4 linked regions of the Homo sapiens genome follow. The protein of the gene in region 1 purifies or fractionates together with the protein of each later gene. This does not show direct contact. Each region holds a gene or a part of one and is shown in the gene's direction. Other genes may lie near its edges.

The links.
Region 2: the proteins of ASPM (region 1) and NAP1L4 purify together in Homo sapiens (affinity purification with mass spectrometry; 2 studies listed by BioGRID and IntAct, with this or other methods). This does not show direct contact.
Region 3: the proteins of ASPM (region 1) and NAP1L1 purify together in Homo sapiens (affinity purification with mass spectrometry; 2 studies listed by BioGRID and IntAct, with this or other methods). This does not show direct contact.
Region 4: the proteins of ASPM (region 1) and IPO7 purify together in Homo sapiens (affinity purification with mass spectrometry; 2 studies listed by BioGRID and IntAct, with this or other methods). This does not show direct contact.

What each region holds. Positions count from the first base shown.
Region 1 is NC_000001.11:197,094,652-197,101,678, reverse strand, and holds part of ASPM (abnormal spindle-like microcephaly-associated protein), read left to right. Parts: coding exon 1-1,248; intron 1,249-5,514; coding exon 5,515-5,681; intron 5,682-7,027. UniProt on the Homo sapiens protein: Involved in mitotic spindle regulation and coordination of mitotic processes.
Region 2 is NC_000011.10:2,954,327-2,961,353, reverse strand, and holds part of NAP1L4 (nucleosome assembly protein 1-like 4), read left to right. Parts: intron 1-1,444; coding exon 1,445-1,584; intron 1,585-2,809; coding exon 2,810-2,955; intron 2,956-5,587; coding exon 5,588-5,610; intron 5,611-6,707; coding exon 6,708-6,827; intron 6,828-7,027. UniProt on the Homo sapiens protein: Acts as a histone chaperone in nucleosome assembly.
Region 3 is NC_000012.12:76,046,663-76,053,689, reverse strand, and holds part of NAP1L1 (nucleosome assembly protein 1-like 1), read left to right. Parts: intron 1-339; coding exon 340-485; intron 486-579; coding exon 580-599; intron 600-3,036; coding exon 3,037-3,159; intron 3,160-3,904; coding exon 3,905-3,934; intron 3,935-4,164; coding exon of another isoform or gene 4,165-4,227; exon of another isoform or gene 4,228-4,439; coding exon 4,440-4,490; exon of another isoform or gene 4,491-5,101; intron 5,102-5,225; coding exon 5,226-5,261; 3' UTR 5,262-7,027. UniProt on the Homo sapiens protein: Histone chaperone that plays a role in the nuclear import of H2A-H2B and nucleosome assembly.
Region 4 is NC_000011.10:9,387,648-9,394,674, forward strand, and holds part of IPO7 (importin-7), read left to right. Parts: intron 1-7,027. UniProt on the Homo sapiens protein: Functions in nuclear protein import, either by acting as autonomous nuclear transport receptor or as an adapter-like protein in association with the importin-beta subunit KPNB1.

The sequences.
Region 1 (7,027 bases):
GAAAATTATATCAGACAATGGCATTCTGCTGTGGTTATTCAGGCTGCATATAAAGGAATGAAAGCAAGACAACTTTTAAGGGAAAAACACAAAGCTTCTATCGTAATACAAAGCACCTACAGAATGTATAGGCAGTATTGTTTCTACCAAAAGCTTCAGTGGGCTACAAAAATCATACAAGAAAAATATAGAGCAAATAAAAAGAAACAGAAAGTATTTCAACACAATGAACTTAAGAAAGAGACTTGTGTTCAGGCAGGTTTTCAGGACATGAACATAAAAAAACAGATTCAGGAACAGCACCAGGCTGCCATTATTATTCAGAAGCATTGTAAAGCCTTTAAAATAAGGAAGCATTATCTCCACCTTAGAGCAACAGTAGTTTCTATTCAAAGAAGATACAGAAAACTAACTGCAGTGCGTACCCAAGCAGTTATTTGTATACAGTCTTATTACAGAGGCTTTAAAGTACGAAAGGATATTCAAAATATGCACCGGGCTGCCACACTAATTCAGTCATTCTATCGAATGCACAGGGCCAAAGTTGATTATGAAACAAAGAAAACTGCAATTGTGGTTATACAGAATTATTATAGGTTGTATGTTAGAGTAAAAACAGAAAGAAAAAACTTTTTAGCAGTTCAGAAATCTGTACGAACTATTCAGGCTGCTTTTAGAGGCATGAAAGTTAGACAAAAATTGAAAAATGTATCAGAGGAAAAGATGGCAGCCATTGTTAACCAATCTGCACTCTGCTGTTACAGAAGTAAAACTCAGTATGAAGCTGTTCAAAGTGAAGGTGTTATGATTCAAGAGTGGTATAAAGCTTCTGGCCTTGCTTGTTCACAGGAAGCAGAGTATCATTCTCAAAGTAGGGCTGCAGTAACAATTCAAAAAGCTTTTTGTAGAATGGTCACAAGAAAACTGGAAACACAGAAATGTGCTGCCCTACGGATTCAGTTCTTCCTTCAGATGGCTGTGTATCGGAGAAGATTTGTTCAGCAGAAAAGAGCTGCTATCACTTTACAGCATTATTTTAGGACGTGGCAAACCAGAAAACAGTTTTTACTATATAGAAAAGCAGCAGTGGTTTTACAAAATCACTACAGAGCATTTCTGTCTGCAAAACATCAAAGACAAGTCTATTTACAGATCAGAAGCAGTGTTATCATTATTCAAGCTAGAAGTAAAGGATTTATACAGAAACGGAAGTTTCAGGAAATTAAAAATAGCACCATAAAAATTCAGGTATTTCTATATTTAATTTAAATATAAAACTGTGAGTCTTTCTTTTGACCAATATTTGTTAGAATGTATAAAATGAGCTTAAGCAGGTCATAAAGAATAGTACTTAGTTGAGGTGACCATTTATCTTCCAAAGTGGAACATTTTTGAAAGAGGGAAAGGGCACTAGTAAGTCAGCCAAGACAGCACAGAACGGGGATTGTTCTGGCCATGGTCACCCTATGTGTGGTGCATTTCAGTATGGGTTAATTGTAGCACTCTTAGAAGAATTTTGAGAAAATAGGAGTCCTGTATTTGGCAAAGTTATTTCTTTAAGTGGAAAATATAAGCTAAGATAAAGTATTATTTGGCATAATATAGGCAAAATAGAGTAACTTTGTTCCTCTAATAATCTATTAACCAGAGCTGTTTGCTGCTTAGGCTAGTAGACATACTTTATTCTGAGTGTTTAGTACTTTGGCTTCCAAATCAATTTTGTATTATTTTGTTTTGTCTATTTGCCAAATGTGTGAGGAATGTACAGTATTATCTCTTTTAAAATATGAAGGAAGTGATAAAGTTTAAGTAATTTGGCCAATGTTGCATAGAGAGAGGCAGATCCAGGAACTGAATCTAAGTACTTCAGCTATTTCTTTTTACCTGCAATAACCCAGGCTTTAACCCAGATGTGATATGTTCATATCTTACTGGATTACTGTTAAATTTAGAAATAATGTTTTAATTCAAGAAATGTCAAGTGCTAGAAATGTGCCAAATGCTGTAGTGGGTGTTATAAATAGACAATGAGTAAGATATACTTAGTTGCTGTCCTCAAGGAACTTAATTGAACAAGGAAGTATAATTATAATACAACATGAGAAGTGTATGTTTCAGGAAACACAGAATGGGAAATCAAGCTAGTCTCCATGGTCAGAGACTTCCCAGAGTGAGTAACATTTAAGTTGAAATGTTACACTGAAGTATGAATTAGAAATAGCCCAGTAAAAGGTATAGAAGAATATTCCAATTGCAAGAGATAACGTGGAAAAATCAAAAAACTAGAAACAATAAAAAGTGATATGGGACCAGGTTGGCAATAGAGGGAGTAAGATTGTGGATAGATTTTTAAGACAGAAAAAATTTAGTCTTTATGCTCCAGACAAAACAAATTCTAGAGGAGTTTAAGCAGGAGAAGACCACAGTCATTTTTATTAAAAAAAAAAAAAAAATTACTCTGGCAGGAATGTGGAAGATGGACTGGAAAAGGAGCAAGACTAGAATCAGGTAGACCAAATGAAAATAGGCAGTAAGCCAGGTGAGAAAGAGTTATAGTTCAGTGTAGGTTTGTGACAATGGGATTGTAAGTTGGCATTATATAGAGCATGAACAAGGAGGCAAGCCATGTTGATGGCTTAAGTAACTCAGCAGAGTTACTCCCTCACACCCTGACATAGGGAATAAAGAGGGAAGAGCAGGTTTTGAGATTGATGATGAATTCAGTTTGGAGTATATAAGATCTGAAGTACCTAGCAGGTAACCCCCTTGAAATATCTAGTAAGGCAGTTGACTATGTTTGTCTGGAGTTCAGGAGAGTAGTGTGAGTATTAGAATTTGATTTGTACATTATGGGCATATGCTAATAATTAAAGTTCTGGGAATAATGAGATCACCAAGGAACAATACATAAAATGAGTGAACAAAGAGGGCCTGGGACTTGAGCCCTGAAGAACATCAAAATTCACAGACATTGACAAGAGAAGCCAACAAGGTGTTAAGAGGGAAAGAAGAAAGGTAAGAGATTAATGGTATCAAGAAACCAAGGTGTTAAGAGGGAAAGAAGAAAGGTAAGAGATTATGGTATCAAATTCCTAACACTACTGAGAAGTTCACAATTGAAAGGTGTTCATTGGATGTATTAGTTATGGTTTTATTCACTTAAAATGATTAAATAGCCAAAATAACAATCTTATAAAAATTTTTTTCTCTTACATAATTACATAATAAAATTGTATTTTACACATATAATTTTTAGCCTATGCCAGTGGTCTAAAACTTTACTGCATATTGGAGTCACCTGGAATTTTAAAACATACTCCTACCTTTAGATATTCTAATTGGTATGGGAAGCAACACAAGCGTGGGATTTGTTTCAAAGCTCCCAGGTGACTCTAATGAGCAGCGAAGTTTGGGAGCCACTGGGATATAGTATACATTACTAAATACTTACATATATATGTAAATATGTATGTTTTATATATATATATATATCAACTTCTCTGTAGCATTTGGGATTTAAGCACACTTTGTTTCTTCTCTCAACCCTTGGTTTCTTGATACCATAATCTCTTAGCTGTCTTCTTTCCCTCTTAACGCTATGTTGGCTTCTCTTGTCAATGTCTGTAAATTTTGATGTTCTTCAGGTGTGATGTGTGTGTGTGTATATATATATATATTTGTAAATATATATATACACACACGTATATCTATACATATATATAATTTTCTCATTAAAACTTTGTTTTAATGGGTCTCAAAATTCTGTGACAGATTTTCGGTCAATTTGTTTTCATTAAAAAGTACTGATTTTAAAAACTAGTAACTTATAACTGCCACAAGCAAAACAAAAACAAAAACACCAAAATGGTCCACAAAACATTCTCCTTTCCTCCTGAAGGTTTTATGATGCAGTGTTACCATTAACCAGTCTTTTACTGTTACAGTTAAATGGCCAATTGAAACAAACAGTTCTGAGACCATTCTTCTACCACTGATTAAGACTGAGGTGGCAGGTATTGGGGATATACATAAATAATGTATGCAGATTTACATAAAAACCGTATACAATATAGTCTGAATGAGTTAAGGTCATCTCAGAGTAATTTTGGCCATATATAATTATTGCATTATCAACTGAATTTAGAACCTAATCTAAATATACGTTGTGCCTATAGTATTTGTTGTGCTGCGGGATAATTAAGGAATCAGAGAGACCGAGGGATTTGAGGAGGAATTATTTAATTATTTATGTGCACCGACCCAGTCGGATTAACATCCAAAGAGGACTGAGCCCTGAACAAAGAGTCAAGCTACCTTTTAAGCATTTCGTGGGGCATGGGGAGATCTGTGCAGGGGGAAGCGTATTACAGAAGAGAGAAACAAAGACAGTTATTCAAGTAAGAGATGCATTACATTATTTCTTACTTTTTAAGGAACAACATGTTTTACAACTTGAGATTATCTGTCTAGTGTCCTTGCAGCTGCACAGCTAGAGAAACAGTCTTCACAATGCCTGGGAAAGGGAGAGATAAGGCTCACTAGCCACAGAGAGAAAAACACAGTTAATTTTAAAGGACTCCAGCCCTTTCTCTTCCCAAGGGGAATTGGGTTTTCTTACATACAACTGAGTTTTTGCTTACACAGTCTTTAATTTCTTTTAATTCCTCTTCCTGTAGGGATGTTGGAGTCAAATAGACTTGGGTTCAAATCTTGACTCTGTCACTTAACAGCTATATGCTAACAAGTCCTTCTTAATTTCAATTTTGGATTTTTTTCCTTTTTTATAAAACAGAGATCTTAACCATTTTATAAGATATTTATAAATATTAAGTAAGACAACTCTGCCACTTATTAACCTGTGTGACATCAACAAGTTACTCAATTTCTCTAGGCCTTGATTTCCTCATCTCTAAATTAGAGATAATAGTATTATCTACCCATGTGATTATTAAGGACTAATCTTCTTAGTGCTTAGTTCAATAAGTTGTAGCTGTCATGTAAACCTTTAGTCTTCCAGAAGGTTGTCAAAATCAGAAAGTCTGACAGTCCTATCACAGGAGCTCTCAGGATTCTCCTGCAGGCTGAACACAGAACCCAAAGTGAATATGGATTGGGAAGAATTCCTCTTTCTCCCCAGAACCTGCAGTAGGTCAATGTGTTCATTTTCTTTTCTTCCAAATGGATTGAGGTGATGAGGATAATTTACATAATGTGGGGCTTTTCAGACATGTGTGTCTTACAATTTATAAATACTGGTTAGGGTTTTGTTAGGCTGGGCTGGCAGCCAGCCATAAGGTATGTGTGATAAAGCACATAATACGTGTTCACTATAGTAAGCACCACTGTTCTCAGAAGACTCATTACATGTCAAAGTCTAAAAGAGTCATGATATGACTATGCAATTTATTTTTGTCTGCACTAACCTTATTTTAACTGTCTTTATACTGATTTGTCTTATTTACAAAAAAAAAGAGACAACTCATTGCATACTTGTTATATTTATGTATTTAATAGGCTATGTGGAGGAGATATAGAGCCAAGAAATATTTATGTAAAGTGAAAGCTGCCTGCAAGATTCAAGCCTGGTATAGATGTTGGAGAGCACACAAAGAATATCTAGCTATATTAAAAGCTGTTAAAATTATTCAAGGTTGCTTCTATACCAAACTAGAGAGAACACGGTAATGTATCATAGTTCTGTGGAGAGTGTAAAAGTATTTGTGTGTGATAGCTAAGTCTTTACATAAAATAACACTGCTTATTGATTTTTATTTTAAATATTTGTTATGCTTAATTTATATGGTTGGTTTTGTTGATATTTTCTTTATTAAGGAAACAAAATACATCTCTCGTACTGTCTTGCTTTTTTGAGATAGAGCATAGCCTTTAATTAATATAATCTAAAAATATTATATACTTGATTAATTCAGGTTCATAAGGATTAGAGTAAGGACAGAGACGTAGGAAGTGAATAAAATCATTTAGTTAAGACTTGGTTTTCTTATTAGTGCTTTGGGCCATTTTGCTGGGTGACTTAACTACTGGCAAAATTTGTTTTCTTACTCATTCTTTTTTTCTTTGAACTTTGTATTATTCCTCATACTCTTTGTCATTAATGATGAAGACCCTAATTACCAACCTGTCTATGCTAATTGTATTTCACTATTCCTAGCTTATTTCTCACACACACATTTTCAGAAGCTGTTACCAGATCATCTTTTTTTAAGTTCATAGTATAAGAATTTTTCTTCAGCTCCCAGAGTTGATGAATTATTGAATCAATGATGGTTTTAAAGATGGTTTAGGAAGGCACACTAGTGTGAGAGGAATTTTTGGATGAAGCCCATGGGTAGAAGCAGGGCTTAACATATACAGTTGATCGCATGAAGATAGAAGTAGAATGTTGGTTACCAGAGGCTAGGATAGGGAGAGGGGAGGGGTGGATAACGACAGGCTGGTTAATGGGTACAAAAATACAGTGAGAAGGAATAAGATTTACTGTTTAGTAGCACAATAGGGCAACTATAGTTAACAATAATTTATTGTATATTTCAAAATAACTAGAGGAATAGAATTAGAAGTTTCCTAATAGAAGGAAATGATAAATGTTCGAGGTGATGGATATCCCATTTACCCTGATTTGATCATTACTCATTGTGTGCTTGAATCAAAATATCACATGTACTCTGTAAATATTTACAACTATTATATATCCATAAAAATAAAAATTAAAAAGCATATAAAGATACAGTTGCTACTATCAGCTATTAAGGACCAGTATCTAATTTTCCTGTAACAGATGCTGAATTTTTCTCAATGGTGTTTGGTCCTATTTTCTAAGAAACATGGCAACAAAACAAGCTACTCATTGTACTTTTTCCACATTATCAAGAACAGAGTAGAAAACCTGTCCATTCTCACATTTTATCTCTTAGTATTATGTTGATCCCTAAAATTTAATCTCTAGTGCTCAGATTTTTTAAAATTTTTCTCCAGTTCTGTTTACGAAATATCTCTACTTAGATAT
Region 2 (7,027 bases), on another chromosome or scaffold:
CTCTTGCCAAGGCCAGTGGAGAGCTCCTAGCCAGATCCTGCTGTCATCCCTTCTAGAAACCGACTAGACTGTCTCCCTGATCCTGACTTCCTAAGCCCTCATGCCCCGCCTCCTCCTCCACCTTTCTTTGAAAGTTGTTTTTTCACTTCTCCTTTGTGCAAGTGGTTTGTTTGAATGTATAAACTTTTTTTGCTGTATATTTTTTTTAGTCCTCTTAATTTCCCCCCCGTTGATGGTTTTACCATTACAATGAAAATGGAAACAGCTGACATTTAGCCAGCCTTGCCTATAAACGCGGCTCTAAGTGATACAGATTAACCACCAAGGCAGCTCCTAGAGAGGGAGAGAGTTATTTCCAGTGTAGAGATGAGGAAACTAAAGCACGGAGACATTGAGTAGCTTCCGCGAGTTGCCTAGCAGTGTAGGCAGAGATGGGATTTGAATCCAGGCTGTCTGAGCGTAGAACTGGTCTTGTAAACTGTCTATAAATTACTCAACCAAGCGCATCTTCCATGTTTTTCTTCTATAAATAGGGATGAGGTCAATGTCTTTGCACATATCGATGCATCCATCCAGGTATTTTTCTCAAATAGAACAAATTCCTCAAAATAGAATTACTGAGTCAGGGAATATGCCTTTTAATTTAATTTTTTTTGATATTGCCAAATTGTCCTTCATAAAATCTGTCGACAGTACATGAGTGTGCTCAGTACCCCAAAATCCTGGCCGGGTCTACATATTTTTGTACATTTTGCCCCAAAGAAAGGCATCTCATTTTGGTGTTCATGTGTTTTGTTACTCGTGAGCATGAATGCCTTGTTGCTGCTGTTGGTTGTTCTATGCCTGCGTTCATGTTTGCATCCTTTTTCCCGGTGTGCTCACGTCTCTTCCAGGTCTGTAGCGTGCTTTGTAAGTGAGGGATGAGCTTTCTGTCCTTGTAGAGATTTGTCCTTTTCTCCCACCCACCTCCCGGGAGAAAAGCTGTGGGTCACTGCTTTCACTGCACAGCACAGAGTAGAGACCCTGGCTTCCCCCAGCAGGGTGGGGGCTGGGGCTTAGGCTGAGCGGAAAAGGACAGGAGGAGGATGGACTGCTGGTCCCCTTACTTTCCCCTAGTCACCTTCCCTCCTTCCAGGAAGCAAGGGCTGGGAGCAGCTAAGAGAAGCTAGGATTTCTTAGGAGAGCTTGACGCCTATTGGTGAGGAGGCATTGGAGGGGGAACATGCCCCTTACTCATGAACTGAACAGATATTTCCCGCCAGTCCATCGTTGGTTTTTTTAACCTCACGCTAGTCTTTTTTGCGGTGGAGAAGTTTTTCTTGTTCATGGCCCTATCTGTTGAGCTTTCCCAAAATAGCTTCTAGTAAGTGTTGTGTACTCCAAGCAATCTGTCCTCGTTATTTTTCTATTTTAACTGGTGCTTACTCTGAATTTCTACTTTTAGTCTTTTGTGTTAGAGTTCCACTTTGAACCCAACGACTACTTTACCAACTCAGTCCTGACAAAAACCTACAAGATGAAATCAGAACCAGATAAGGCTGATCCCTTTTCCTTTGAAGGTCCTGAGATTGTGGACTGTGACGGGTAAGAAAATGTCATTCTACCTTGTTTTTCTGAAACAAAATCAAAAGATAATTTTGTAACTTGATGGGTAAGATAGAAGTAAGGAATAAAGTACAGTCTTGAGTCTGCTTAAAAGCCTAAAAGCCTGGTAGATGTATATTTCAATAGTCTTTCAGTTTGGGAATGCTCATAGTGCAGAACTTGGAGATGGCGGCTGAACCTGGGAAATGAGTCACGTGGTTGCACATGCAAGCCTTTGGGATAGTGCCCTGTTTCTTCATTTTAATGAAAGTAGTGGATTCTCTAGACATCGTGAATTGAAGTTCTTAAAATTGAATCCATGGATTACCCTCAGCAAATAAATACTTATTGAATGAATGAGTCTGAGTCCAGGGCTATATTGATCAGCTGATTGCTTTGGAAATAGGTGGGGGCAGCATAGCTGTTGTTTGACTCACTGATTTCAGTCTTTATAAATCACTAAAGAGAGAATTTGGTTTAGAATTAATTTCTCCAGGTTGGGTTGACTGAGAAATGGTTTTAGTCTTGACTTGAAACAATTACGTTTATTTACCAGAAGTAAATAGTAATTGTTAATTCAGGACTTTATTAAAATCCTGCTAGAGTAATTTAGAAAGATGATTTTCCAGGGCCAGGACATCATGTGAGAAAAAGGCCTGGCCTTACCAAGCATGTTCTTAAGCGGGCAGTATTGAGATCTGCCAGGTGTTGCCTGGGTCTGTGGTGATTGTGTGTTAGAGAGAGCGTGCTGTGCTCAGCCCTCGCCAGCATCCCTGGGGCTGGAGTGGTCTGCACTGGCCATCAGTATTCCCGGTGGCCACCTCTTTCCTTTTTTCAGCTTGTCGTGCTCAGTTGGCTGCTTTGAACAGCAGCAACTCCTCCTTCCTTGGGAAACCGCGGACAAGTTCTTGTGCATCATGCAGACTTGACGGGGCTTTGCCACAGAATATACATTTCAGAGTCCTGATGAAATGTCTTGGGAAAATAATACCATTGTTCCAGAAGTCTGAAGTTCCAGTGGTCACACCCAAGTTGAAAGAGGACCAGGCTGTTTCTCTTTTTGCCAACCTCCAGATGAACTTCATGGGCCATTGTATTTGGTTTGCAGATTGGTTTTATTTCGTTTTCCAGGTTTGGCATAGAGCTGTGGTTTGCTTCCTGCATGCATTTGTAATGGATTTTTCTCATGGATTGTGTGTTCCTGACAGCTGTCTTGTCCTGGTAGGTGTACTATTGACTGGAAGAAAGGAAAGAATGTTACTGTCAAAACCATCAAGAAAAAGCAGAAGCATAAGGGTCGAGGCACTGTTAGAACAATTACGAAACAAGTACCCAATGAGTCCTTTTTCAACTTCTTCAATCCATTGAAAGGCAAGTCTGTTGGTTGTTAATATTCATTATGTTCTTATATAAAATAATTTTGGTCACCTGATAGATTCCTAACACCCAGAGACTTTAGTCCTCTTTTTTCAGGCAAGTGTGGTCAGTAGGGGCACATTGCTGTGTCCCAGGCTGTTCTGTTGGTGCGCTGGCAAGTTTATCGCGGGGGGCAGAGGTAGCTAGGACAGTAAGAGTAGGATTGTCATCTTCTGCAGGAAAGGGAAGAGCTTTACTCTGCTTGGCTGTAGCCCAGGCAAAAACTTGCAGTTCTGTTTTAAGAAAACTGAATCGAGTATTTGCACCTGGGCTGCTTCCTCACTTGGACACCTGGAGCACCCTTCTCCACCAGCTGGCATTTCTGCCCCGCTGTTGTGTCTGGTTCGCACCCCCCGGGGACCACTCCCAGCCTCGGAGAGCTGCTGGGTTTGCTCTGCAGGTACCCGTTACTGCTGTACGCTGGTTCTAGTTGTGCTGCTTTTGGATCATCTGCTTAGTCCCCCTTTTCTTGTAATTTTTTATGCATAATTTGATAGAATTTTTTGGAATTTATATATTGTAAGAAACACAAGTAGTTGGGACTTTCATTTTTGAAAAACATCGGCAGAATCACAGCTTGGAAGCTGCTTCTTTTTGTTTATTTATTTATTTTTTAAATTTTCCTAAGTGGTAAAATAAAGATGAGACCTTTGAGCTAGTAAAGGTTGACCAATTGATTTTAAGAGTAAATTTCTTGGGATTTTTCATATAATTTCCTAATCGCGAGAAAATGTGAAGGTCAAGCAACTTGTCAGTGTTAAAATATCCATATTCTCTTTAGTTTCCATGAACTAAAACATAATTTGAAGTGAAGAGATGCCAGCCCCTGCTGCAGATAATCAGTGAGTGTTTGTTTGTATGTGGGGCCACAGGGCGGATCTCTTCTCCAGTCTGAGTGATTGATTTTTTGATTTTGTCTCTGAGCTTAGCACCCTTATTTATCAAGCTGCCCTTCAGAGTTCAGTCCATTATTTTAATTGTGGTGCCTATTTTCTGCAATTAGACTTTGAACCTAGAAGATGCAAATACATACGGTTTGGGGAATGAGAGCAGTCATAAATTTAGATATTACATTTCCTTTTTTTGGAAGATTCCTTTTAGACACTTGGGTTGGGCATACTGGAGATTGTCTGTGAATTCAGCGTGAAGAAGGGAGGCTTTAATTTCTGGAATCACTTTGTGTAGGAAGTTCTCTTAAAACTGATTTAAAAATAATTTTTAGGATAAAAATGGAGTTGATAATGGACTCAAGGGAATTTTTAAGTGTTTTTTTTTTTAGATTCTAAAACTTTTAGGGTATGATGGTTGCACAACTCTAAAATTAACGTACTGAAAGTCATAAAGTTGTACATTTAGAGTGTATGCCTTTTAATGGTATGTAAATCCCATCAGTAAAGCCACTTTTAAAGTAATCAAACACATAATACCAAATGGTAAGTGCTTTGAAAAAAATTGAGGATGGCTGCGGAATAGGTAATGGGGTAGTGAAGGAACAGACAAAATGGACTCCTGTGGTGTGAAGTGAAGGAGGCATTAGCTAGTGAGTCCAGCTCCTTTGTCCTTAAAACTGCAAAGCCAGTCCAGAAGTATGAGTGTTCAGAGTCCTTGTACTATTCATGACTTGGGCCAGAGTGCCCTGGGGAGCATGCTGCTCCAGCATTTAGACACCCAGCCATGCTCCTAACCCATGTCTAAAACCCCTGGGTGATGCTGGCACACCGAGGCTTGGGAACTCTGCCTCACTCATGGGTGGTGTTTACGCACCCAACATTCATGTCTCAGCAGCAAACAGCAAGTGCTGCCAGGGTTGTGGTCGCTTAATGGGAAGGGAGACTCAGAGAGGAGAGCCCAGTGAAGATTGAAAAGGCAGGTATGAGACTAAGCAGAGTAAACATTCAACTCCTGATGAAGCTCAGGGTCTTGTAGTAAATGTTTCTAAAATCAGGGGGTTGGATCTTCTACCAGTTGAACGTTGCACAGCTTCATTGAGTGTGGTTAGAAGTCCCTATCTGTCTTGGTGGGCTTAGCTCGTCTGAGCATCAGCTTTCGCTGAGGAATTGCGCCACTCTACAGGGGCCCCTGGTGGGCATTCCAGCACTCTCCAAACAAACAGAAATGCAGTTTCTGTCTCGCTGATTTGCAGTGCCTTAGTAACACTCACAGCTTATAAGGCTTAAGGACTTTCTCTTTCCTGCACCATCATGTATAGTTCTGCGGGACATGAGTTAAGTTTCCCCATAAAGCACAAATGCACTGAATGGCCACAGCCTGGGGGCTGTTTGCCATTCCTCCTGTTAATATATTAACTCTCTCAAAATGATCTTCTCAAGCTTGAGTGCCAGCCCATGGCACATGATGGAGGAGGAGAAGGGAGGGGGGCATAGAGGCACTCAGGCCAGCTTCAGAAGTGGTGGATGGAGCTTGCAAAGATGTCTGTGAGGAGATGCAAGGCTTTGGGGATTTCTGTTAAACCTCGAGGTGAGAAATGTTACATTTTATCTACCAGCACAGCTTCCTCCTGTGTGGGCTTTAAAATTCTGGGAGTTGTCACTGTAATTTAAATATGTTTTGTCTTTTCTTTTTCTAGCATCCGGGGATGGAGAATCACTGGTAAGATTTGTTGTTAATAGTCTTATTTTCCTGTTGAAGTCTCTCCTGAGTGAATGTCTACTTGTCTACTTGTTAAAAAAAGTCCAGTCCTGGCTGTGTGTGGACTGGGTATGCCAGTGATCTTAATGCTTTGGGAGGCTGAGGTGGGAGGACTGCACGAGTCCAGGAGTTTGAGACCAGCCTGGGCAACATAGCACAACCCCATCTCCACAAAAAATTAAAACCAAATAAATTAGCCAGCCGAACATGGTGGTTCACGCCCGTAATACCAGCACTGTGGGAGGCCAAGGTGGGTGGATCACCAGAGGTCAGGAGTTCAAGACCAGTCTGGTCAACATGGTGAAACCCCGTTTCTGCTTAAAATACCAAAAAAAAAAAAAATTAGTTGGACACGGTGGCAGCGCCTGTAATCTCAGCTACTCAGGAGGCTCAAGCAGGAGAATCACTTGAACCCGAGAGGAGGAGGTTGCAGTGAGCTGAGATTGCACCACCGTATTCCATTGGGCGACAGAGCAAGACTCCGTCTCAAAAGATAAAATAATAAATTAGCTGGACATGGTGGTGCACTGTGTAGTTCCAGGGTCGCTGGGGCCCAGGAGCTTGAGGCTGGAGTGAGCTGTGATTGCACCACTGCCCTCCAACCTGGGTGATAGAATAAGACCCTGTCTCTTAAAAAAAAAAAATCCATTTCTGTTTCCTAAAACTCTGGGATTAATTTGAAATCATTACACATCTAAGTAAAAGTATGTGTTTCATATGTTGATTTCAGTAGCAAATGTGCAGTGCTTTAATACTGCCTGTTTCCCATATGTGAGACTGATACCGCCTACTCTGGGTGAGACCTTTGGACAAGTTGTGGAGCTGTAGGGCCCTCACTTCCCACTTTCTCTGCCATTTTGCTTCAGTAGCTCTTTAAAGCTACTTAAAGTTGTTTTAAAGGGGCTTTGAGTGTCTAGTGGCTGTCCCCCAGCAGTGCAGGAGTTTGGTGTTTTAAGTTAAGTAAATCAAAAGTGAGGGGCTGAGGTTTGGCTGAGGGTGGTGAAGTGAATGTTTTTATCCCATTAAAATGAGTTAACACGTAGGTTTTTCCTCCTCAGGATGAAGATTCTGAATTCACATTAGCCTCTGATTTTGAAATTGGACACTTTTTCCGTGAGCGGATAGTCCCGCGGGCTGTGCTGTACTTCACTGGGGAGGCCATAGAAGATGATGACAATGTATGAGGCTCGGGGAAGGGGGGCTTCCACCTGGGTGCTTATCTCTGTTGGTGCAGAGTGGCCCTGAATTGTGGCTTAGGAAACCCCCATGCCTAATCTTTTTATTACATCATCAGCCAGATATGTAGTCCAAGCTGCTGTCCTTGTTGTGGGGGGAATACGCTTGAAGAGGAGAAGTCTGAGGAACAGAGCAGGAAAAG
Region 3 (7,027 bases), on another chromosome or scaffold:
TACATATGTACATAGTCTGTCTCTGAACATTTTGGTAATATGTTTTCTGAAAAGTGCTTATCAAGTTTCCTGTAATTCTCCTTGGACCCATGACTGTCTCACATATATTTTTGCAGAGGAATGCTTCTTTAAATTATACTATGTGTTTGTGCTAATTGTAAATGTGTTTATTTTAAATATTTGCTTAGAAATAAAATTTTTCCCTTTATACTGCTATAGAAAACATTTGAAGCAATTCACCCTTCTAAAATTTGAAATCTAAATAGAACATTTACTTCTAAAAGTTTAGCAGTTGAAAGATTGTCAATTGTAATAGATTTTTCTTCTTTGTTTTGCAAGGTGCCAGATAGATTGGAAAAAAGGAAAGAATGTCACTTTGAAAACTATTAAGAAGAAGCAGAAACACAAGGGACGTGGGACAGTTCGTACTGTGACTAAAACAGTTTCCAATGACTCTTTCTTTAACTTTTTTGCCCCTCCTGAAGGTAAATAATGTTTTAGCTTGAGTATTAACGGTTGTTTTATAAAAAGCATTGCTTAGCTTCTTATTCATTGTAATTTCTTTTCTCAATTTTGCAGTTCCTGAGAGTGGAGATCTGGTAAGTTGAATTGTTATATATTTATTGAATTGTTAAGTATATTTGAAATTAAAGCACTGAATTTCAAAAATGGAGAGTGGGATGGTTGTTACATTGAGTTCTGAGGCCTACAATGCATGGGGCAGACTTTTTGGATATGAAAAATAATTCCATTCAAAATTATATCAGTGCTTCTGCTGAGAAACACTGAGATAAAAAGCTTAAGGTTTTCTTTTCTTTTGAAACTTCACATATTGCTGTGAGGGATTTAACTTTTCAAAACTGTTGTCTTCCTTAGTAAAACCAGAATATATTAAGTCACTTATACTGTTACATTCCTAACTACATTATGGTTCAAATTCATTCCTGAATTTGTTACTCCAATGTAAATATGGTTTCATATTGTGACTAAGTATGTTCACATATATGGCATATGGCAAAGAACATGAAATGTTCCTGCCATATAGACTGAACTGAGGAACAACCTTAAAGAAAGTCTATACACACAAGGTAGGGCAGGTATGTTTTGAATTTGGTTTTCTTTTGGGCATGTTTTTGAATTTAAATTAACTGAGATAGTTTAAATAGTTTGTACATATATGGAATTAGAAATTAACCTAAACTGAATACTTTTGAATTGGAATACTCTTGGCTAAGACTTAGAACAAATTTGTAAAAGGCAAAAGTAAGTATTTCTGGCTTGGCTTATAGGACAAAAAAAGAGAACATAAAGCAGTGTGAATTTCAGGTGAGAAAAACTACTTTAAGTATTAAGATAGAGCATCACACTATTTTCATATCAGTGGATGGGTTGGAGTTTGTGTTCAAGTTTGGGGTTTTTTTTTGTTTGTTTGTTTGTTTGTTACTAAATATTGATGATGACAAAACAGTCTAGTTAAGGATAGAAAACCTCCACCTGTGGTTTGAATTCCTCCCCACCCCCTTTTGGATTTTTCTATTTATTAGATTATGTTGTTGACTCAAACATTCATGGAATTCACAGAGGGTGTGCTCATTGTTTAGTATCATAGAACTTGTATCATTGTTTAGTATCATAGAAGTGGGATTATTTTATTTTATTATTATTATTTTTTTTTTGAGATGAAGTATTGCTCTGTCATCCAGGCTGGAGTGCAGTGGTGCGATCTCCACTCACCACAACCTCTGCCTCCCGGGTTCAAGCAATTCTCCTGCCTCAGCCTCCCGAGTAGCTGGGATTACAGGCACGTGCCATTGAACTCGCTAATTTTTGTATTTTTAGTAGAGACGGGGTTTCACCATGTTGGCCAGGCTGGTCTTGAACTCCTGACCTCAGGTAATCTGCCTGCCTTGGCCTCCCAAAGTCCTGGGATTACAGGCATGAGCCAGGCCAAAGTGGGATTATTTTAATTGTGAATAATGTCAGACCCACTTTTGCCCTGTGCTTTTCTATTAAATAGAAATCCTAAGCCAGGTACAGCTTCAGGCACCTGTAGTCCCAGCTGCTCTGGTGGCGGAGGTGGAAGGATCACTTGAGGCCAGCCTGGGCAACATAGCGAGACCCTGTCTCTAAAAAAGAAAAGTGCTAGGGGCACCTGATTTAGTTAGTATATTGTCTTTCTGAACTAGGACTGTCTCATTTGGGATTAGTAGACTTAAAACTGTACAGCTGTTTGGGTACTGTCTTTTAGGAACTATAAAGTGATCCTCTGTGGTTGTTTATTATGTCCTTCTATTTGCTATGTACTTAACAATATTAACAATAACTATATATTAACAATAACCCAAGGGTTTTTTTTTTTATTTTTCTATTTGGTGTTTTCAATAATATTTTAAAAGGAAAATTGCGGACATGTAACAGTTGCTTTTATGTATTTATGTTTAAACCAGCAAAAACTAAGCAGTTCTAATTTTTATTCTTCACAATTTATCTTAGTATGCATACTGGCCTGCTAGCTTATTTTCTTTTTGTTAAAAACTTGGAAAAGTTATTAAGGAAATTTAAAAATGACAAATCATTTGTTAACATGGTGTGAGAAAAATCATGGAAAGTAAAAAGTAAAGTTGAGCATTTCTTCCCTTCATCATATAATTTAAACTGAAGAGTCTGTCTTTTTTTTTTTTTTTTTTCGGTTGCCCAGGCTAGAGTACACTGGTGTGATCACAGCTCATTTCAGCCTCAAGCTGCTGGGCTCCAGCAATCTTCCCACCTCAGCCTCTCAAGTAGCTGAGACTACAGGCGTGTGCCACCCTGCCCAGTTAATTGTTTATTTTTTGTACAAACGCAGGGGGCGTCTCACTATGTTGCTTAGGTTGCTCTTGAACTTCTGGGCTCAAGTGATCCTCCTACTTTGGCCTCCTGAAGTGTTGGGACTACAGTTGTGAGCCATCACACCCAGCCTCTAAGAGTCTTACATGTGCCAAATTAAGTAACACAGTTATTCCTAAATTTTCTGCTTTTGTTTTCCTTTAAAAATAGGATGATGATGCTGAAGCTATCCTTGCTGCAGACTTCGAAATTGGTCACTTTTTACGTGAGCGTATAATCCCAAGATCAGTGTTATATTTTACTGGAGAAGCTATTGAAGATGATGATGATGATGTAAGCGAATTTGAATCCTGCAAAGAAATAATTGGTTGAGGGTATAGTGGTCAGAATTGGTAATAGATTAGTTTAGTTTTTAAGAAGCAGGACATAATATAATTCAAAATTAGGCTAATTACTGATGTTCTGTATATAGCTTTTCTGGGTTTTAAGTATGTCTCCTTAGGATTTTTGGATTCATTTATCTTAGCTTTTAATTTTCTGCTAATAAGATTGTTCTGAGTTTATGAAACTTTTTTATGTTTGGTTAGTGCTATAGATCTATTATGCCCTTGCCTTGACTTCACAGAGCTAGGACTTTCTTTAGTGCACAAGAAAACATTTACTGGGAGGCATAGAATTTCTATTCAAGGTAGTATTGAATGATGGTTAGGTTAAGATTAGGTTGCATATAGATGTTTTGAATATGTTTATTGCTCAACGGCAATTGTTAGAGTAGGCTTTAGGTCCTTTTCGTACAGTGCATTCCACACTTAAGTGTAGGTGAGTAATATTTACAGTAATACTTGTCTGATCATCCACTTTATCCACATGATTGTACTCTGTTCTTTAATTTTATAAATTGGCAGTGAGCAGAGTGATTCTTGCAGCTACTATGTGTTTTAATTTATAATCAGCCCCTTGATAGGAAAGTAGGTTTTCTCTTTTTAGACACTAGTTTATACAGTGATAAATGTTACTGATGCTACTCTGAAATGTGTGTTACATTCACTCAACACTTAACGCTGTTTTTCCTTTTCAGTATGATGAAGAAGGTGAAGAAGCGGATGAGGTAATGTTTACCAAATGAGCAAATAATTCTCTGTGGTTAACACATTGAGAAGCAAATTGAATGACTTATGTATTCCTTTGCTATAATCATTCTGTGATTTGGGATAAAAACATTTTGGAAAACATGATTTTAGAATTCTACAGCCAAACAATGTATGTATAAGGTTTCAATAAATAAATTGCAAAACTCAGCAACATTTTTTTATTTCAAATAATTTTGTTCTGCTGCAGGGTTATCAGCTCTTTGAAGAAGTCAAAAGCTGCAGTAAACTTTTCCAACGTTGGCTGCAGTAACTATTTTCAATAAAAGCTGTCTGGATGTCTCAAGTTGTGTTGGGAAATTTTTCATATTAGAAGCTTTCAAATTAAATTGTATTATCATCAAAGTCTGTAATCATGAAAATCTGTTGATCCGTAGAGTAACTTGTATTAAATTTTCCCTACATTATGAGCCAGTTTACCTACTATGTACATACTTCATGGATGCATTTTGAACTTTAATATAGGAAGGGGAAGAAGAAGGAGATGAGGAAAATGATCCAGACTATGACCCAAAGGTGAGCAAAATTAGTGCTGCTTTCTATTAAATTTAAGATAGCTAAAGTAAGAGTTGGTGTTTTTGAATATCAAGTTTCTCTCCGTTAAAGTCTTTAATAAATAAAGCCTATTGACTGGATAACTTTGTTTTTTCAGTCCCACTGGCATTGTGAACAGTACACATAATTTCAGTGGACGTTTTTCTAAAAAACATTGTTTTTTGTTTGGACTTCGTGCTTTTTATAGTTTCAGGTACAGTGAACCCTAGGATTCTATTTTAATGGGACGATTTGTAACAGTTTTTAAGCATTAGAAAATAAAGGTTTTTAAAAGATCTGGTTGTAGGAGTGTTCGGGAACTGGGGAGCAGTGCAGTTTGTTAGATCCTTCCAACTACTCTTACTCAGTCCCTGAGAGTCCTAGTCTATTATTCCTGAGAATTTGTTATATTAGGATTAGCAAAAACAAAGCTGATTGGTAATATAACTAACATAAATTGCTTGGTAACTTTATTTTTTTAAGATTATGGTTTAGCGTGTGTCACATTTTATGGAGTTAATTCTACAGTGTAAAGTTTGAGCTTGATTTTAGCATTTCAGTGACTTGCTAATAAAATAAATAATTTACCACCATTGTCCTATACCATTTCTTTTGACAACAGTGAGCTACTGTTATAATTAAGGCAGTAATTACTATTGAGAAATTCACTGAAGCAGGTAGAAGAAGATAGATTGACTTGTTGTTTTCCTTTAACAGAAGGATCAAAACCCAGCAGAGTGCAAGCAGCAGTGAAGCAGGATGTATGTGGCCTTGAGGATAACCTGCACTGTAATAGCCTAAACACAACTCTTATTTACTTACAGCCTTATGTTTTTGTATTTTCTTGGTAGACTAGGTAATTTTTTTTTAAAGGACAGGAAACTGATATTTTAAAGACCAATTTGTTCTACCTAGCATTTTAACTAGTTTTTCTGCCAGCTATGTTGAATGCACAAATTCTGTCACGCATGTTCATTCATTGCTACATAATTTGGTTCTTCTGGAATATTTTTATGTAGCTCTTGGAGTACAGCTATGAAAATTAACAACTGTTAAAGGAAATACCTTTTTTTTTTTTTTGTAATTTTTTCCTTGAAGAACCAAAGTATTTTTTCAGCTGGTTGTTGAATAGGGTTAAGTCCGCTTGGATTAGCTGTGCCTTTCATTACTTTGTTACAGAAATGCAGTGACTTATACTAAGACAATTTATTGTTTAAAAAAAAAATTGGCAAGACAACTATATGGTTAAGAATTTCCAGTATGACCACACCCAATAACTGTTATTAGAGTGTTAATGGATTATTGTGTTTTAGGTGACATAGTTAACTGTAAAGTAACCTGACTCAGTATAGTTACTGGTACCACAGTGAGGTGAATAAAACGGGATTTTCAGAAGTTAGCCTGAATTTAACTGTATTTTTAAATTTAACCTCCATTAACTAAGCATCTTTTCTTTGTGGTAGGGTCTACCTTCTGCTTCCCTGGAAAGGATGAATTTACATCATTTGACAAGCCTATTTTCAAGTTATTTGTTGTTTGTTTGCTTGTTTTTGTTTTTGCAGCTAAAATAAAAATTTCAAATACAATTTTAGTTCTTACAAGATAATGTCTTAATTTTGTACCAATTCAGGTAGAAGTAGAGGCCTACCTTGAATTAAGGGTTATACTCAGTTTTTAACACATTGTTGAAGAAAAGGTACCAGCTTTGGAACGAGATGCTATACTAATAAGCAAGTGTAAAAAAAAAAAAAAAAGAGGAAGAAAATCTTAAGTGATTGATGCTGTTTTCTTTTAAAAAAAAAAAAAAAAATTCATTTTCTTTGGGTTAGAGCTAGAGAGAAGGCCCCAAGCTTCTATGGTTTCTTCTAATTCTTATTGCTTAAAGTATGAGTATGTCACTTACCCGTGCTTCTGTTTACTGTGTAATTAAAATGGGTAGTACTGTTTACCTAACTACCTCATGGATGTGTTAAGGCATATTGAGTTAAATCTCATATAATGTTTCTCAATCTTGTTAAAAGCTCAAAATTTTGGGCCTATTTGTAATGCCAGTGTGACACTAAGCATTTTGTTCACACCACGCTTTGATAACTAAACTGGAAAACAAAGGTGTTAAGTACCTCTGTTCTGGATCTGGGCAGTCAGCACTCTTTTTAGATCTTTGTGTGGCTCCTATTTTTATAGAAGTGGAGGGATGCACTATTTCACAAGGTCCAAGATTTGTTTTCAGATATTTTTGATGACTGTATTGTAAATACTACAGGGATAGCACTATAGTATTGTAGTCATGAGACTTAAAGTGGAAATAAGACTATTTTTGACAAAAGATGCCATTAAATTTCAGACTGTAGAGCCACATTTACAATACCTCAGGCTAATTACTGTTAATTTTGGGGTTGAACTTTTTTTTGACAGTGAGGGTGGATTATTGGATTGTCATTAGAGGAAGGTCTAGATTTCCTGCTCTTAATAAAATTACATTGAATTGATTTTTAGAGGTAATGAAAACTTCCTTTCTG
Region 4 (7,027 bases), on another chromosome or scaffold:
ATGGAGAAACCCCATCTCTACTAAGAATACAAAATTAGCTGGGCGCGGTGGCGCATGCTTGTAATCCCAGCTACTCAGGAGGCTGAGGCAGAAGAATCGCTTGAACCTGGGAGGCGGAGGTTGCGGTGAGCTGAGATCGTGCCACTGCACTCCAGCCTGGGCAACAGAGTGAGACTCCATCTCAAAAAAATTAATTAATTAATTAAATTTAAAACATTGGCTGGGCATGGTGGCTCATGCCTGGAATTCCAGCACTTTGGGAGTCCGAGGCGGGCGGATCACCTGAGGTTGGGAGTTCGAGACCAGCCTGACCAACATGGAGAAACCCCGTCTCTACTAAAAATACAAAATTAGCTGGGCGTGGTGGCGCATGCCTGTAATCCCAGCTACTAGGGAGGCTGAGGCAGGAGAATCGCTTGAACCCGGGAGGTGGAGGTTGCGGTGAGCCGAGATCGTACCATTGCACTCCAGCCTGAGCAACAAGAGCGAAACTGCGTCTCAAAAAATAAAAATAAAAATAAATAAATAAATAAATTTTTTTTTTTTTGAGACGGAGTCTTGCTCTTGTTGCCCAGGCTGGAGTGCAGTGGCGCAATATGAGCCCACCGCAACTTCTGCCTCCTGGGTTCAAGCAATTCTCCTGCCTCAGCCTCCCAAGTAGCTGGGATTACAGGCGTTTGCCACCACACCTGGCTAATTCTGTATTTTTAGCAGAGATGGGGTTTTACCATGTTGGCCAGGCTGGTCTCCAACTCCTGACCTTGTGATCCGCCCACCTCGGCCTCCCAAAGTGCTGGGATTACAGGAATGAGCCACCATGCCCAGCCTATTTATTTATATTTATTTTTTGAGACAGGGTCTTGCTCCATCACCCAGGCTGGAGTGCAGTGGCACCATCATGGCTCACTGCAGCCTCTCCCTCTCGGGCTCAAGCAACACTCCCACTTCAGCCTCCCAGGTAGCTGAGACTACGGGGATGTGCCACTATGCCCAATTAATTTTTGTATTTTTTGTAGAGACAAGGTTTCACCGTGTTGCCCAGGCTTATTTTTAATTTTTTCAGAGCTAAGGCCTTGCTATGTTACCCAGGCTGGAGTGCAGTGGGCTCCACTGCACTACATAGTACACTACAGCCTAGAACTCTTGGCCTCAAGCAGCGTCCTCCCATCTGAGCCTCCCAGGTGGCTGGGACTGCAGACACGTGCTACCACGCCTGGCCTAATTTTACTTAACTTTTCTTCTCCCCACTATAATTTTAAGTTTCTTGAGGTCATGAATTGTTATTTTTTGTTATTGTTATTCCTTGATTTCCCAGTAATAGGCTTTATGACTGACTTCCTGTTATAATATTAATAAATAACAGTATAGGCTTTAGCTCTTTTATTTATTTTTTAAAATTTATTATTATTATTATTAGTATTTTTGTGGCAGGTTCTCACTCGGTTGCCCAGGCTAGAGTGCGGTGGCATGATCTTGGCTCACTGTAGCCTCCAATCCCAGGTTCAAGCGATTCTCAGTCCTCAGCCTCTTGAGTAACTGAGACTACAGGTGCCACCACATCTGGCCAATTTTTGTATTTTTAGTAGAGACGGGGTTTCGCCACATTGCCCAGGCTGGTCTCGAACTCCTGACCTTAAGTGATCCACTCACCTTGGCCTCCCAAAGTGCTGAGATTACAGGCATGAGCCACCACACCAGCCGGTGTTTTTAAATATAATGCCAGGAAGATTTTTATTAAATACTCATTCCGAAGGATAATTCCCAGTCTGGTTCATGTAACAGCAAATGTCTGTGTGCTAGGCACTGAGCTAAGTAGTTAGATGCAGAGAAATTTATGATCACTGCCTTTCTAGAGCTCCATAATCACCACGTCACTGGCCCATACAATACATGTGGTCAGTACTATAATAAAGCTACATGTAAGTTTTGGATGACGAAACTATTAGATCTGATTTTGGCTAAGGTGGATATGATCTCCGCATCAATAGTCTTTCCCCTGTTATATTCGCAGTCAAGAAAAATGCTGTAAGTGGAATTAGAGGGTTTACCCAGGAGACATTTAAACTCTTAGTTCCTAAGCTCAATATGGTATATAATGGTTATATATGTATATACACCTTTTTTTTTTTTTGAGTGGAGTTTCGCTCTTTTTGCCCAGGCTAGAGTGCATTGGTGCCATCCGGCTCACTGCAACCTCCATCTCCCGGGTTCAGGCAATTCTGCCTCAGCCTCCCGAGTAGCTGGGATTAAAGGAATGCACCACCACACACGGCTAATTTTTGTGTTTTTAGTAGAGACGGGGTTTCACCATGTTGGCCAGCCTGGTCTTGAACTCCTCACTGCAGGTGATTGCCCACCTCAGCCTCCCAAAGTCTTGGGATTACAGGCGTGAGCCACTGCGCCTGGCCTAATTTTATATTTTTAGTAGAGACGGGGTTTCGCCATGTTGGCCAGGCTGGTCTCGAACTCCTGACCTCAGGTGATCCGTCCGTCTTGGCCTCCCAAAGTGCTGGGATTACAGGCCTGAGCCACCGTGCCCGGCCTAATGGTTTTATATGTACAGGCAGCAGTGCTACTTTCTCACTTGCTTTATATGAAAAAGTGATCTTGCTTTTGGTAAGTTTCTTGATATTTTGTGTGTGTGTGTGTTTTTTTTTTTTTAACTCACACTACCCTGGATCACTTTTGGGATTGTCACAAAAGGTTAACTATTACTGCTGTATGTGATATACCTTACTTATAAATGGTTCATTTGATTCCATTTTATTAAAAGTATTTAATGAAAATCTTAGGTCTGGAAAAGTGTAAAATAATGGCATATTTGTAAGATAATTTGGAATGTTTAGAAATTAAGCAAAATATTTTAGGAAGACCAGAGTAGCCTGTAGTTTAGATAACATTCCTTCACCAGGAATATTTTGAAGTACTGTTCTGAATTTGGGAGAAGGAAAGTCCCTGGATACTTCGGCTGTTAGATAGCAAGTTATTCAATGATATAGCTTGTTAAAGATCTGAAAGAGTTTGGGCGCAGTGGCTCACGCCTGTAATCCCAGCACTTTGGGAGGTAAAAGCAGGAAGAGGATCGCTCGTCCAGGAGTTTGAGACCAGCCTGGGCAACATACAAAAAAAATTTTTTTTTTTAGCCAGAGCCTCGCTCTGTCACCCAGGCTGGAATGCAGTGGCGCAGTCTTGGTTCACTGCAACCTCTGCCTTCTGGGTTCAAGCAATTCTCCTGCCTCAGCCTCCCGAGTAGCTGGGACTGCAGGCGCCCGCCACCACTCCTGGCTAATTTTTGTATTTTTGGTAGAGATGGGGTTTCACCTTGTTGGCCAGGCTGGTCTTGAACTCCTGACCTCAGGTGATCCACCCGCCTCTGCCTCCCAAAGTGTTGGGATTACAGGCATGAATCACAGCGCCCGGCTGCTAAATGATTTCTAATAAAAAAGTTTTTTTTTAAAGTTCCTAGTTGGAGGTCAGATGCGGTGGCTCACGCCTGTAATCCAGCACTTTGGGAGGCCGAGGTGGGCGGATCACAAGGTCGGGAGTTCGAGACAAGCCTGATCAACATAGTGAAACCCCGTCTCTACTGAAAATATGAAAAATTAGCCGGGTGTGGTGGTGGGTGCCTGTAATCCCAGCTACTTGGGAGACTGAGGCAGGAGAATCACTTGAACCCGGGAGGCGGAGGTGCAGTGAGCCAAGATCACGTCATTGCATTCCAGCCCGGGCAACAGTGCAAGACTCTGCCTCAAAAAAAGAAAAATAAAATAAAAGTTCTGGCCGGGCATGGTGGCTCACGCCTGTAATCCCAGCACTTTGGGAGGCTGAGGTGGGTGGATCATGAGGTCAGGAGATCGAGACCATCCTGGCTAACATGGTGAAACCCCATTTCTACTAAAAATACAGAAAATTAGCTGGGCATGGTGGTGGGTGCCTGTAGTTCCACCTACTCAGGAGGCTGAGGCAGAATGGCATGAACCTGGGAGGCAGAGCTTGCGGTGAGCAGAGATCACACCACTGCACTCCAGCCTGGGCGACAGCAAGACTCCATCTTAAAAAATAAAATAACATAAAACTTCCTAGTTGGAAAGCATAAAAATAATATTTTAAAATTATTTTTATTGTTATTATTTTTTGAGACAGGGTTTCACACTGTTACCCAGGCTGGAGTGCAGTAGTATGAACATGGCTCACGGCAGCCTTGACTCTCCTGGGATTAAGCTATCCTCCTGCCTTAGCCTCCCAACTAGCTGGGACTACAGGCGTGCACCACCACACCTGCCTAAGTTTTTTATTTTTTGTAGAGACGAGGTCTGTCTTTGTTGCCCAGCCTTGACTCCCAAGTGCTAGAATTACAGGTGCGAGTCACTGCACTTGGCTTATTACTGTTTTTTTAACAAAGGCAGAGGGACGCAGTGAAGAGCCTTAGCCTTGTCCTGAGTCTACGACTATAATGACTTAACCTCACTATGCCTTATATTTCATGTAGCCAAGGTAGATGTCATATTTGCCTTTGTCAAATTCTTTTTTTTTTTTTTTTTTTTTTTGAGACGGAGTTTCGCTCTTGTTGCCCAGACTGGAGTGCAATGGCACAATCTCGGCTCGCCACAACCTCCGCCTCCCGGATTCGGGCAATTCTCCTGCCTCAGCCTCTTGAGTAGCTGGGATTACAGGTATGCATTACCACGTCCGGCTAATTTTGTATTTTTAGTAGAGACGGGGTTTCTCCATGTTGGTAGGCTGGTCTCGAACTCCCGAGATCCGCCCACCTTGGTCTCCCTAAGTGCTGGGATTACAGGTGTGAGCCACTGTGCCCGGCTTGTCAAATGCTTTAGTAACAAGAAAGGTTAGAAGTTCCTTGGCTCTTGAAATTACCTGGTTGTATTTAATGTAAAAATCTGATAGCACGGGATTCTTCTACCTCCTGTGTTCCTTAAAAATGGTCTGAAGTATAGTAGCTAATTGAAAGTCTCTTTGGTTATATTTCAATGGAGAGAAATAATACAAAGTTACAGTTTTGGCCGGGTGCGGTGGCTCAGGCCTGTTATCCCAGCACTTTGGGAGGCCAAGGTGGGTGGATCATCTGAGGTCAGGCGTTTAAGACCAGCCTGGTCAACATGGCAAAACCCTGTCTCTACTAAAAATACAAAAATTAGCCGGGCATGGTGTTGCGTGCCTGTAATCCCAGCTACTCAGGAGGCTGAGGTATGAGAACCGCTTGAACCTGGGAGGCAGTGGCTGAAGTGAGCCAAGATTGCTCCACTGCACTCTAGCCTGGGCGACAGCAAGACTCTGTCTCAAAAAAAAAAAAAAAAAAAGTTACGGGTTTGAAGAGTATGTTTTAAAAGATACTGACATTAGTGATTACATTGGAAAATGTGGGTCCAGAGGGAAAACTGATTTTGAAGACATGAGTTACATACAGAGTGTCTAGTTTGAGGAGCTGGTAAACATCAAGTAGAAAAAGTCTAGCAGGCAATTGGAATGTGGAGCTGAAGTTTAGGAGAGAAAGCAGCAATGGAAAAGTGATATTCTTCTGCAGGCAGGTGATTACAGTAGTATGATCCAAAGGTATGGGATGGACTAGAGGGCTAAACTTTCAACCATGCCTATTTTGGGTACTTTGATAAACATCTGAAAAAGCAGACTGGAGATTTTGGGCATAAAAGTAAGAGAGAAGCCAAGAAAGATAATTTTAAGAAGGTTGCTTGTGGTTAGTGGTTAGTTTCCTTTTTCTTTTTCTTTTTTTCTTGAGACGGAGTCTCACTGTTGCCCAGGCTGGAGTGCAGTGGCACAGTGACAGCTCACTGCAACCTCCGTCTCCTGGGTTCAAGCAGTTCTCCTGCCTCAGCCTCCCTAGTAGCTGGGATAACAAGGCAACCACCACCACGTCCGGCTAATTTTTTTATATTTTTAGTAGAGAAGGAGTTTCATCACGTTGGCCAGGCTGGTCTCGAAGTCCTGACCTCAGGTGATCCACCCTCCTCGGCCTCCCAAAGTGTTGGGATTACAGGCGTGAGCCACCACACCAGGCCTAATTTCCTTTTTCTTACATAGATTTAATAAATTCTCTACCAAAGAGCATGAATTACTTTTGAAAATGAGTAAAAAATTTTTAGAAAAAAGAAAGGGGTGTTGATACTCCTAAATGAGAGAGGTTAAACAAACTGAAGACTTTCTGGGAAAATGCATTAAAGTATCAGTAACCTTGGAAAAGTAATTTCTAATTTTTTTCTTTTAATTTTTTTATTTTTTTGAGACAGTCTCTCTCTGTCTCCCAGCTGTAGTGCAGTGGTGCTATCTCGGCTCACTGCAACTTCTGCCTCCCAGGTTCAAGTGATTATCCTGCCTCAGCCTCCCAAGTAGCTGGGACTACAAGCGTGCGCCACCACGCCCAGCTAATTTTTGTATTTTTAGAGATGGGTTCCACCATGTTGGCCAGGATGGTCTCCATCTCTTGACTTCGTGATCCGCCCTCCTCGGCCTCCCAAAGTGCTGGGATTGCAGGCGTGAACCATCGCCCCCAGCCTTTTAATTTTTAAAATTATTATTAATTTTCCACGCAGTCAGAGGGGAAAGCAATTTCTGATTACAGTGTTAGTGAGTGGAATGCTAGTAAGGGGGCAGGGATAAGATTGTAAGTTAAAAGGGTGGCCATATTGGGAAATTCGTTGATGTGAGAGTGTGCGTTTTTCTTTTTCTATTTTTTAAAGTTGAGCTTATTTTGGGTGGCAGAGAAAGCAGCAGGGAAGCTTGGCTGTATAGTAGAATAGGGGCCTAGGTTTTTGAGGCCTGTTGCTACTACCTGTTGTACTAATAGTTTTTCATTCATGTTTTATAGTCATCATTCCTTGAATTACATTCTTCATTACATTCTTCACAGTGCTTCAAGAACTCATTTTCCTATAGCATAAATCTGATCATGTATAACCCTTCACAAAAAATTCATACTCTTTAAATTTTTTGGCCACAACCTACCAATTCATTTTTATCTTTCACTGTTCAAAGTCTTCTCTGATTTCTGAGT